Linked DNA regions of Homo sapiens: region 1 is linked to region 2. The links come from fine-mapping of genetic effects on gene expression. A gene starts in region 2. The other region holds a variant in brackets. All regions are shown on one strand. Distances are between the middles of the regions. Region 1 overlaps POLA2 (DNA polymerase alpha 2, accessory subunit). Region 2 holds the start of POLA2 (DNA polymerase alpha 2, accessory subunit).

Region 1 (5,367 bases), 35 kb before region 2:
CTCCTTCTGCCAGGGCAGAGGCAGGGCAAGGGCATGGGCATGGGAGGCAAATCCTGGCAAGAGCTCGGGACTATTTCTTCAGGACCGTCTAGTTGGTGTCTCAAGGGCAGGGGCCATGACCAGATCAGGGAGAGGCCACCAAAGGGGGCTGAGGCAGACGGGCCTGACCTCCTGGGCACCCTCCCACCCTCCGTCACTGACACGCCCCCAGAGCCTGCTTGAGAATACCTGGGATGACAGATGCCTGGGGAAACTGGTGACACAGCTGAAGTGGGGTCTAGGGACGGTCAGCCAGCAGTCACTTGGCACCTTCCTGACAAGAGCAAAAAGGAACTGTCTGGTGGCAGAGGCACGCCTGCCAGACCTGTCTGCTCTGGTGTTAGCATCCCGCTTTCTCTTTGTCTGACTCTTAAATGCCTGCTCCGGCCCTCCCGGCCCTCCCAGATCATTTCCAACAGTCACACGACTGGTATCCAGGCAACCATTGCCTGGGCTCCCAAAATTCCACATCCGGAGGCTGACAAGTCATGGTGCCCCCGTGGAACACAGCTGGCTGCTTCATGTGTGGAGGAGCTGGGGGAGAACGGAAAAATCCACTCCCCACGCAGGGATGAGTTTCTAATTCTTGGCCTCAGAGGAGGTGCCTATAAAACTAATGAAATAAAACAGCTGCTCCTTGTGTTTAAAGGAAGACCTTTTACTGTACCCTGGTCAGGTCTGGGGCTCGATTCCATTTCACCGTCAGAAAGGTGAGAGGCAAAAGTTGGCCACTGTTAGGTCATCTATTTATCTCGGAGTCAAGGCATAGACACCAGCAGCTTGCTGCCCCCTTGCCCACTTCCCTGCCCTGACAGCTGGGGTTTGCCGGTCTTGGCTCTGGCATGTGAGGCAGGACAGCCTGCCAGCTTAGGGCAGGAAGCCACTCCACGTCTGGCCAGTGACAGCTTTTCCCCAGATGCCAGGACATAGGGGCATGGGACGTGCTGTGAACCCTGGAAGGCCTGACCCTGTCTGAGTGTTCTGGGCTGCAGGCAAGCCCTGGCTACTGCGCGACTTGGCAAAGCAGCTGCCACCAGGACTCCAGCTTTGGAACAGCCCAGCGAGGCGGCCCCCTCCAGATGGAGAGGTCAGGCTGGGACCACAGCATGCATGTGAGGAACTGCGCAGGGAGGCCCAGGCATGCAGCCAGTTGCTTGCTCTGCAGCCCAGCTCTAGGGCCCACCCAGTGCACCTCTGCAGCATAGAGGTCACTGGGGCCTTTGGGGGATGAGGAGTGGGGCTGAGAGTTACCCACTGGACAGGACTGGGGCTGGATAGAAACCCAGTGTGACTGACACTCTGCCTTCTCTGGACATAGGTCAAATAGGCAACATTCTTTGTCTACTACCAGGATAAAGAAAATAGAAGAAAGGGGCCGGGCGCGGTGGCTCACGCCTGTAATCCCAGCACTTTGGGAGGCTGAGGCGGACAGATCACAAGGTCAGGAGATCGAGACCATCCTGGCTAACATGGTGAAACCCCATCTCCACTAAAAATACAAAAAATTAGCCAGGCGTGGTGGTGGGTGCCTGTAGTCCCAGCTACTCAGGAGGCTGAGGCAGGAGAATGGCATGAACCCGGGCGGCAGAGCTTGCAGTGAGCCGAGATCTCACCACTGCACTCCAGCCTGGGCGACAGATCGAGACTCCGTCTAAAAACAAAATAAATAAATAAAAGAAAATAGAAGAAAGGTCAAACTCAGAAGTCACACTCAGAATTTAATTTCTCCAAAAGTTGTTTCTGTGTTTGATTCATGTAGAAAATCACAAAGCCTTCTCGCCTTTTCTGAGTGGGCGGGATCCACAGCTGGCTTACTTCTGGACACGGAGCATGGACTGAGAAGCAAGAGCTTCCTTCCAGGAGAGGCACCACTCAGAGGCAGGCCCGGCTGCACAAGTCCTCCCTGCTGGGCCTGGTCACTGCAGCTGCCCCTCCCTGGCTGGCTCCTCTCTCCTTTCCCACCCAACTGTTCACCTTGTCACAGGGCTATGTCTTGGCTCTTGGCTAAGACTTTAAGGGCCCACACAGCAGAGAACAGCAGAGGACAGAAGCCTCAGATCCTGACGACCTGCACAGCAATGCATGGGCTCTGCCTCTCTGCCCCGTCCGCTGCCGGCCTCCTAAGGTAGAGTCGGGCGAAGGTGCCTCCCACCTGCCCTTTGGTAAGGCGCCCAGGGTTCACACAGACACAGCCGAGGACATCCTGGGGAGGAGAGGAGAGGTGACAGGTTTGGAGAGCCTCAACTAACTGGGAACCAATGTGAAAAAGAAGTGCCATCACATGGCTGGACCCCAAAGAGGGTTTTAGAAAATGGAAACGAAGGCAACCAAATCACCAGACACATTTTCAGTCACTTTTTTTTTTTTTTTTTTTGAGATGGAGTCTCGCTCTGTTGCCCAGGCTGGAGTGCAGTGGTGAGATCTCAGCTCACTGCAGCCTCGACCTCCCGGGTTCCAGCGATTCTCCTGCCTCAGGCTCCCAGGTAGCTTGGATTACAGGCACCCACACCACCATGCCTGGCTAATTTTTGTATTTTTAGTAGAGATGGGGTTTTACCATGTTGGCCAGGCTGGTCTCAGACTCCTGACCTCAGGTGATCCACCCACCTCGGCCTCCCAAAGTGCTGGGATTACAATTGTCAACCACTGCGCCCGGCCTCAGTCACATATGTTAACTTGTCACTAGAAAGCTTTGAATTCCTTTTAAGTCTTTCAAACAGAAGAATGAGGTGACTTGGCAGAATGACAATCAGCTCCTAAACTTGGAGACAAACCTGATCTAGCTGTTTACTGCTTTCTCATGTGAAAAACTTTTTTTTAACCTCTTGAGATTGAACTAACTCTTGTTTGGCAAGAGGGGGACTGGTCTAGGCAGATTCCTTGTAAGGGACCTAACTCCAAGGCAGGCAGGGCTAAAGGGTGGCAGAGATCAAAATGACCCAATAGCTTCTTCAAGGTATTCCCAGCTGAGCCCACTTGGAGGTCATATCAGAATTTGGGAGGCAGAGGACAGGCAAGTGTACATATGAAATCTTCCCCAGGTCACCTCTATGTGGCCTGGTGAAAGCCCTCATTTGAGGGCCTTCCTAGTCATCTGGGCTCTCGTTCTCTTGGGGAGGGAGGAGAGGACACTGTTTACTCAAGCATTTTACTGACAGAGTTGTTTGTTTTCTGGTCCCACCACCTCCCCAAAGAAACAAGGCCACAGGGCAGGGTGCTAGAGGCCCCATCCCCATCAGC[T/A]GACCCATGAGGGGTGAGTGCCGGGTGGTCTAGAAGGGAAAGTCAAAGACTGGGTTCTGGTGTTTCTGGGAAAAAGCAGAGTTCAAACCTACCTTCACGAAGTACCTCAGCTCTGACGGGATGATGAGGACATCTGGGGTGACAGGCAGCTGTGCGTAAACATAGAACGACTCATAGTCAATGGCCATGTCTTCTTGGGGCGGGTAGAGTGGGTAGTAGCTACAGAGACAGAGAGAAATTGTCAGCACTAGCTGACCGGGGGGCCCCCTTCTCAGACAGAGTCCCCCTAGGTACTGGCTTTCGTGCTGCTGGCATCCACAGACCGACTTTTTCTCTGTGTGTGTGGGGCAGAATGCAGGCTTGTCATCACAGGGTAAAGTTCCCTGCTGGTAGCCTGGTGAAGGCTCTTACAGTCATGCTTGTCATAGCTCCATGACCCCAAGGCACTCTCTCCACAGTCAGGGGTCCCAGCGGCAAGCTCACCTCCTCTGGGTCAAGATGTGCTTGAGTATTCGGCTGAATCTGTCTGAAGTTCCGGAAGAACTGGGAAAGAAAAGAAAGCATGAAAACAGAACTCTGTTTTTCAGCCCATTTCTCTTCAGGGAGGACTGGAGAATTTAATAAACCAGAGAGAAGGTAAATGGCCAAGGCACAGCAACAAGAGGAGGATGCCTCTGGGGAAGTTTAAAGACCCACCCACAAGGAGCTCAGTCTGTCCCCACATGAGGAGGGACGCAGGACACCAGGTTGAGAAGGGAAAGCACAGGAATCCCTCATAATCAAGATCAAGGAAGGCCATTAGCCAGCACCGTACTGTGCAAGAGGATGCAAAGTTGGCACCATCATGAGGCGGGTGTGTAGCCAGGCTGACCTGAATCTCAAACCTCAGCCAAGGAGCCGCACCCGTCTCGCTTCACACGCGAGTCGCTTCACATGCCCCTTCCCATCAAGGATGACGGCAGAACGGAGCTGCCCAACTTCAACTCAACAAATTTGTCAGGGCCTGATTCTCTGCAGAGCTGGATGTTGTACTGGTAGTGAAGAAAATCCTTCAGAGAAAATTCCCAGTTTATCCTCCACAAACAGGATGTCCACATTTGTTTTCAGGTCACAAATTTGGGAAATGAAAAAAAAGGGGAGCAGAAAAGAAAATGTAGATGAATTTTGATGCCTTTAAGTGCAAAGACAGAATGGACGTGGTTCTTTGGGGTCTCAAACGCAGTTTAGAGAGGTGGTAACAGAAACTAATGCATCCAACCCCTCCCCTTGGGTACAGAGAAACTCAGATGGCTAGAGGGTCTGGCACAGCTTGCTGCTTTCAGCTCTCTCTGGTCAAGACCGTTAAGCAGCCCCTTGATTTTCTTGGCTGCAGAAAGGGCTGGGACCAGAAAGCCAGTCATCCTGCTTGGGGCCTGGAACACACTTCTTACCTACTGATCTCCTCGGCCCCCAGGTGGAAAAGCAGATCTGTGGATGTCAAGCCGAAGATCACTCCGTTTATGGAGAGGCTGCAGGGCTCGGACACAAACTGTACTTGCTAAAATGAGAACGGATTGAAACAAACATTTGTATGCCAAAGCTAGAAACATCTTCCCATGAAAGTGGGGGTTGTCTGAGGGCTGGGGAGACCACGGAAAGGGGGACCAAACCAACATACATCAAGCTTTTGGACACATTTGCCTGTTTAAAAAAAGGAGTTTAAGATTCAGGCTGTACGCACACCCTAAAGAGGCCTCTCCACCCTCCCCTTCAGGGCCAGAGCTAGTGGCAGAGGCATGCTGGATTCTGGCTGCCTGCTGGTCAAGGAGTGGGTGCTGCTACCTTTTTGTCCTCTCGAGACAGATCGGAGTAGCTGAAAGGCGGCTGGGGGTACACAGGCTCATGGTGCACATCTCTCAATGACGGGACAAAGACAAGGTGGGAGCCGGAGCTAGTATGGCAAAAGAACAAACAGAAGAGTGAGAAAAGTGAGTGCAGTTGAGTTAGAACAGCTGCGCAACAGGTGGGATGCCTCAGGCTGGAGGCAGAGCCCACCCCGAGGGAGGCAGCTCAGAACTGCACTCTGTTATGAACAGAGACGCTGTTTCC
Region 2 (5,367 bases):
CTACATTTTTCAGCAAATAATAGAAATTTGTCAGCTGAGAGTGAGGGTGGGACAGAAGGATGTTACAGGAGAAGGTGGAAAACAATCATCTGGAAGACTCAGAGTAAAGAGACCAGGGGCCTGGCGCAGTGTAATCCCAGCACTTTGGGAGGCCAGGGTGGGCGGATCACCTGAGGTCAGGAGTTGAAGACCAGCCTGGCCAACATGGTGAAACCTTGTCTCTACTGAAAATACAAAAAGTAGAACAGGTGTGGTGGCTCACACCTATAATCCCAGCACTTTGGGAGGCCGAGGTGGGAGGATCACTGGAGGTCAGGGGTTCGAGATCAGCCTGCCCAACATGGCGAAACCCCATCTCTACTAAAAATACAAAAAATTAGCCGGGCGTGGTGGCGGGAGCCTGTAATCCCAGCTACTCGGGAGGCTGAGGCAGGAGAACCGCTTGAACTCGGGAGGCAGAGGTTGCAGTGAGCCAAGATTGCACCATTGCACTCCAGCCTGGGCAATGAGAAACTCCATCTCAAAAAACAAAACAAACAACAACAAAAAAAACAGGGAAATACGGTTGACTGTCAGGAAACATTAAGGTGCCACTGAAGTTACTGATGATCCAAAGTCCACAATTCCAAAGCCATTGCCATGAGATGAAAGCAACTGGCATCTTGGCCTGAAGCCTTTACAAATCTGGTTCACATAACTAATTTCTCTCATGCTGATTTCATGCTTACCACATACATTTCTGACTATGATCAGGTTTTCCACTTAAGTCTTTTTTTTTTTTTTGAGACAGAGTCTCGCTCCTGTTGCCCAGGCTAGAGTGCAATGGTGTGATCTCGGCTCACCACAACCTCTGCCTCTCATGTTCAAGCGATTCTTCCGCCTCAGCCTCCTGAGTAGCTGGGATTACAGGCATGCGCCACCACGCCCGACTAATTTTGTATTTTTAGTAGAGACAGGGTTTCTCCATGTTGGTCAGGCTGGTCTCAAATTCTCGACTTCAGATTATCCACCTGCCTTGGCCTCCCAAAATGCTGGGATTACAGGCGTGAGCCACCACACCTGGCTAGTCTTCTTTTAAAAAGAGAAGGACCGAGCCTGCTGGCTTATGCCTGTAATCCCAGCACTTTGGAAGGCCAAGGTGGGTGGATCACTTGAGGTCAGGAGTTCGAGAGCAGTCTGGCCTACATGGTGAAACCCCTTCTCTACTAAAAGTACAAAAAAAAATTAGTCGGGCCTGGTGGCGGGCGCCTGTAATCCCAGCTACTTGGGAGGCTGAGGCAGGAGAATCGCTTGAACCTGGGAGGCGGAGGCTGAAGTGAGCCGAGATTGCACCACTGCACTCCAGCCTGGGTGATAAAACAAGACTGTCAAAAAAAAAAAAAAAAAAAAAGAGAGAGAGAGAAGGCACTGGGCATGAAGACTTGAAGTATTCTGGTTTCTGAAAGGAATTTCTCACCATAAATTAACGTTTCGTTATCTTTTTGTATATAAGAAGTTCAAAGTGTTGAGTGGTTAAGGCAGGTGCACATTCATACCGATTCTAGAACTTCCACATCTCCCAGGCTTTGCTTCAAATGACTCCTTACACTGCTCTACAGCTTGACCAACACGATGGACCCGTATGATGCAGCACGGGACTCCAAGGCAGGACACCTGGCTTCACAGACAGCTCAGGCAATTAGCTTTCCTTGTCTGTTTCTCCATCTGTAAAGCTCCCTAAAGCTCCTTCCACAGCTCAAATTCAATTTTAGGAACCTACCTCAAGGGATTCATATTTGCACAGACCACCAACAGCTATGATAAAATAACTGATGGATCAGCAGAGGTTTAAGGTGTAGGCTGGAAAGGGAGGAGCCAAGAATAAAAAGCTACATTTCAAAACCCCCACATCTGTTGCTTTGTTACCGGGGCTTCAACAATTTCCAAACTCAGGTGCCACCAGTGCCTAGTCTCTATCTAGCACATCCCAATTCCGCCTTTCGGGAACTTCGAGTTGGTTTAAAATCGTGCTGCATATTCCTATTTTTGATTTGGCATCCAAGCGGTACCCGGTGGGCATTTCAAAGTCCCCACATCCTAAATCTCAAAACTCAAGTTTGATTCTTCATCTCACAGCCACCGAGAACTCTGCTCCAGGGGAAGTGGAAATTGGAAGCGCTCCACTTTCGGTTCTAGGCGCCGAGGAACTCGGGCGAGAGCGTGGAGCACGGCTGCAGGGCGGGAGGGGTGCGGGACTCACATTTCTCAATTAGAGCCTCCTCGCAGTCTAGGCCGAAGATCTGCAGCTCCTCCGCCAGCTGCTGGGCGGATGCGGACATGGTCGCCCAAGCCAGGGGCCGGGGAGCCGGCCCACCCAGCTCCGACCTGCGCCCAAGAAGCCCACGGGGGTGGCGAGCGATGAGCTCCTCGCCCTCTTATCCTTCCCCCCTCCGCGGACCGTGACAGGAGGTGACTGGCCCAAGCAAGACCTCAGACCGTCAGAAGGCCCCGGCCGTCGGTCACAGAGAAATACTTTTTTTAAAAAATGAAGGGGTGGCTCCCAAACGCCCTGAATGGAGGGAGCAGAAATCTCGAGAGGACGCTCTCCTGGTGAGAACGTCCTGCTTCCCAAAAGCTACCGCTGAGCTTCTCAGTGACGGTGGCAGAACTGAGTGGCCGGAAAAACCCGCCAAATGGTTTGTGCAGTGCACGCATGCGCGAAACCGGGAGCCAACCCCAAACCTTCCCCTTGCTTTCCCCGGCTCATTCCGGAACCCCACGCGCGCACGCGCGGCCCAGGGCGCGTGCGCATCAGCGGGCGTGTGGGCGTCTCTACGCACGCGCCTGGCGGCCCGCCAGTCAGCAGCTGCGCAGTTCTCTCTCACGGCGCGAGAATGCCGGTTGTGACTCGCAACGCCCGGGAGTTGCCTACAAGGAAACTGAGTCTGTGTGCGGATGCCTGTTTTCTGGGCATCGGCTGCTCGATAAAACTCAGTGGCGCATGTTTGTCACCCTTTTGCCCTGTTCCGTGGTGCGCAGGCGTTGTCGTGCGCGTGCCTTCGACTATCTAAAACTTACTGTACCCCCTTCTCCATTCCCCTTGTCATCTCTGCCTGTTGTGCCCTTGGTTCATCCTAAAAGAATGGCTTCAGTAGGGAATCTGGTTGCCATGGTTATTATCGTGCTTATCACCGTGGTGCCAGCCACAGTGATGGGTATGTTTTCTGAATCTGGGGCATTTGGGGGGATATGAGGTGGGAAGGTGACGGATAATTTAGTTTTGGACACGTTAAGTTTGAGTGCCTCTGGGATTTCCAGGTAGAGATTCCCAGTGGGTGACTGGAGGCTTGGGAGTGAAGGTAGGTCACTCAAGGATAGAGTTTAGGGGTAAGATGAGAAGAGGGTTCTCCCCTTGAAATACACCGTAATTCTTTGAGCCAAAAATCTCAACCGTAGGCGTCATACAATGCTGGTGGGATGGTATAGAGCGTTTCGAGAAAACAATTTAGCAATATGTATCAGGAACCTTTAAAATGTCCATCCCAGGCCAGGTGCGGTCACTCACGCCTGTAATCCCAGCATTTGGGAGGCCGAGGCAGGCGGATCACTTTGTAGCAGGACGAGCCACAGACAAAACTCCTCAGACACCCGAGTTAAAGAAGGAAGGGGTTTATTCGGCTGGGGTCATCGGCAAGACTCCTGTCTCACCAGCCGAGCTCCCCGAATGAGCAATTCCTGTCCCTTTTAAGGGCTCACAACTCTAAGGGGGTGCGCCTGAGAGGGTCGTGATCAATTGAACAAGCAGGGGGTACGTGACTGGGGGCTGCATGCACCAGTAATTAGATCAGAACAAAACAGGATAGGGATTTTCACAGTGCTTTTCTATACAGTGTCTGTAATCTATAGATAACATAACTGATTAGGTCAGGGGTCCATCTTTACCAAGCCTAGGGTGTGAGGCCGGGCTGTCTGCTTGTGGATTTCATTTCTGCCTTTTAGTTTTACTTTTTCTTTCTTTGGAGGCAGAAATTGGGCGTAAGACAATATGAGGGGTGGTCTCCTCCCTTAACTTGAGCCCAGGAGTTCAAGATCGGCCTGGGCAACGTGGCGAAACCCCTTCTCTACAAAAAATTAGCGGGCGGTGGTGGCGGGTTCTTGTGATCTCAGCCACTCTGGGGGCTGAGGCTGGAGGAGCGCTTGAGTTCGGGAGGTCGAGGCTGAAGTGAGTCATGATCGCCTCACTGCACTCCAGCCTGGGCGACAGAGCAAGATCGTGTCTCAAAAAGCAAACAAAGGCCGGGTGCGGTGGCTCACGCCTGTAATCCCAGCACTTTGGGAGGTCGAGGCGGGAGGATCACGAGGTCAGGAGATCGAGACCATCCTGGCTAACACGGTGAAACCCCGTCTCTACTAAAAAAAAAAAAAAGAAAAAAAAAAGAAAGCCTAGCGTGGTGGCGAGCACCTGTAGTCCCAGCTACTTGGGAGGCTGAGGCAGGAGAACGGCGTGAACCCGGGAGGCGGAGCTTGCAGTAAGTCGAGATTGTGCCACTGCACTACAGTCTGGGCAACAGAGCGAGACTCCGCCTAAAAAAAAAAAAAAGCAAACAAAAACCGAAGTATGTGTGACCTCTAGTCAGCCAATGGCTGCTTGGCTGTATTTTGAATTTAGGCCTAGTTAGCCACTCCGGATCCATCATGAACCTCTTTTGGGGTTCACACCCTTAAGCCTCAAATATTTACTCTCTGGCTCTTTACGGAAAATGTTTGCAGTTTCCCACCATCAGCAATAACCAATGGATATCAAATGTGTTACATACATATTTTTCCCAACCTGTCTTTTAACTTTGTGGGTTTTTTTTTCTACCACACAACACTGTGCAATTCTTTTCCTGTATGGGTTTTAGGTTTCCTGCTTTGTTTAATAAGGTCTCCTCGACCTAAGCTTATGCAAATATTCTTCCAATTTTTGTTTTATTAATTTTACTTACGTTTTGCCTTTAGTTCGCTAATCCACCTAGAATTAATCTTATTTGTGATGTGAGGAAGGATTTAGCTTTGTTTTATTCCTGACAAACAGCCAGCATGTCAGCAGTTATACTTAGTAAATAAAACATTCTTCAACTGACTTGAATTGTGATCTTTCATGTATCAAGTCCCCATAAACACTTGAATCTGTTTCTGGATTTTCTGTTTTATTCCACTGATTTATTTGTTGTCTTTTCTGTGTCAATATATTTTGATTGCAGGAGTAAATCAAGTGGGTTTTAGATCTGTGACATAGCCAAGTCCTAAAACAATAGTAGCTGAGACAAAATAGAAGTTTATTTCTCTCGTCAGATAAAATAATTTCAGAGATAGGTAGCCCAGGGCTAAAATGGTGGCTTCACG

What was found. PIP is the estimated chance that this variant, and not a neighbour inherited with it, causes the effect.
Region 1: its variant is fine-mapped to the expression of POLA2 in whole blood (INTERVAL, PIP 0.93).

What each region holds. Positions count from the first base shown.
Region 1 is chr11:65,293,995-65,299,361 of GRCh38, reverse strand. It overlaps POLA2 (DNA polymerase alpha 2, accessory subunit), which reads right to left. Exons shown (of 18, transcript NM_002689.4): 14 at 5,101-5,209; 15 at 4,710-4,816; 16 at 3,763-3,822; 17 at 3,372-3,498; 18 at 677-2,242. The coding sequence ends at 2,093. It overlaps LOC105369344 (a long non-coding RNA gene), which reads left to right. Exons shown (of 3, transcript XR_007062727.1): 3 at 3,738-5,367. Among named protein-coding and RNA genes, the nearest start is that of CDC42EP2, 18 kb to the left of the region's middle. The variant T/A (reference allele first, on the strand shown) is at 3,280.
Region 2 is chr11:65,259,244-65,264,610 of GRCh38, reverse strand. POLA2 (DNA polymerase alpha 2, accessory subunit) reads right to left here and starts at 2,649. Exons shown (of 18, transcript NM_002689.4): 1 at 2,240-2,649. The coding sequence starts at 2,318. RefSeq lists enhancers at 1,738-2,623, 2,380-2,629, 2,624-3,511.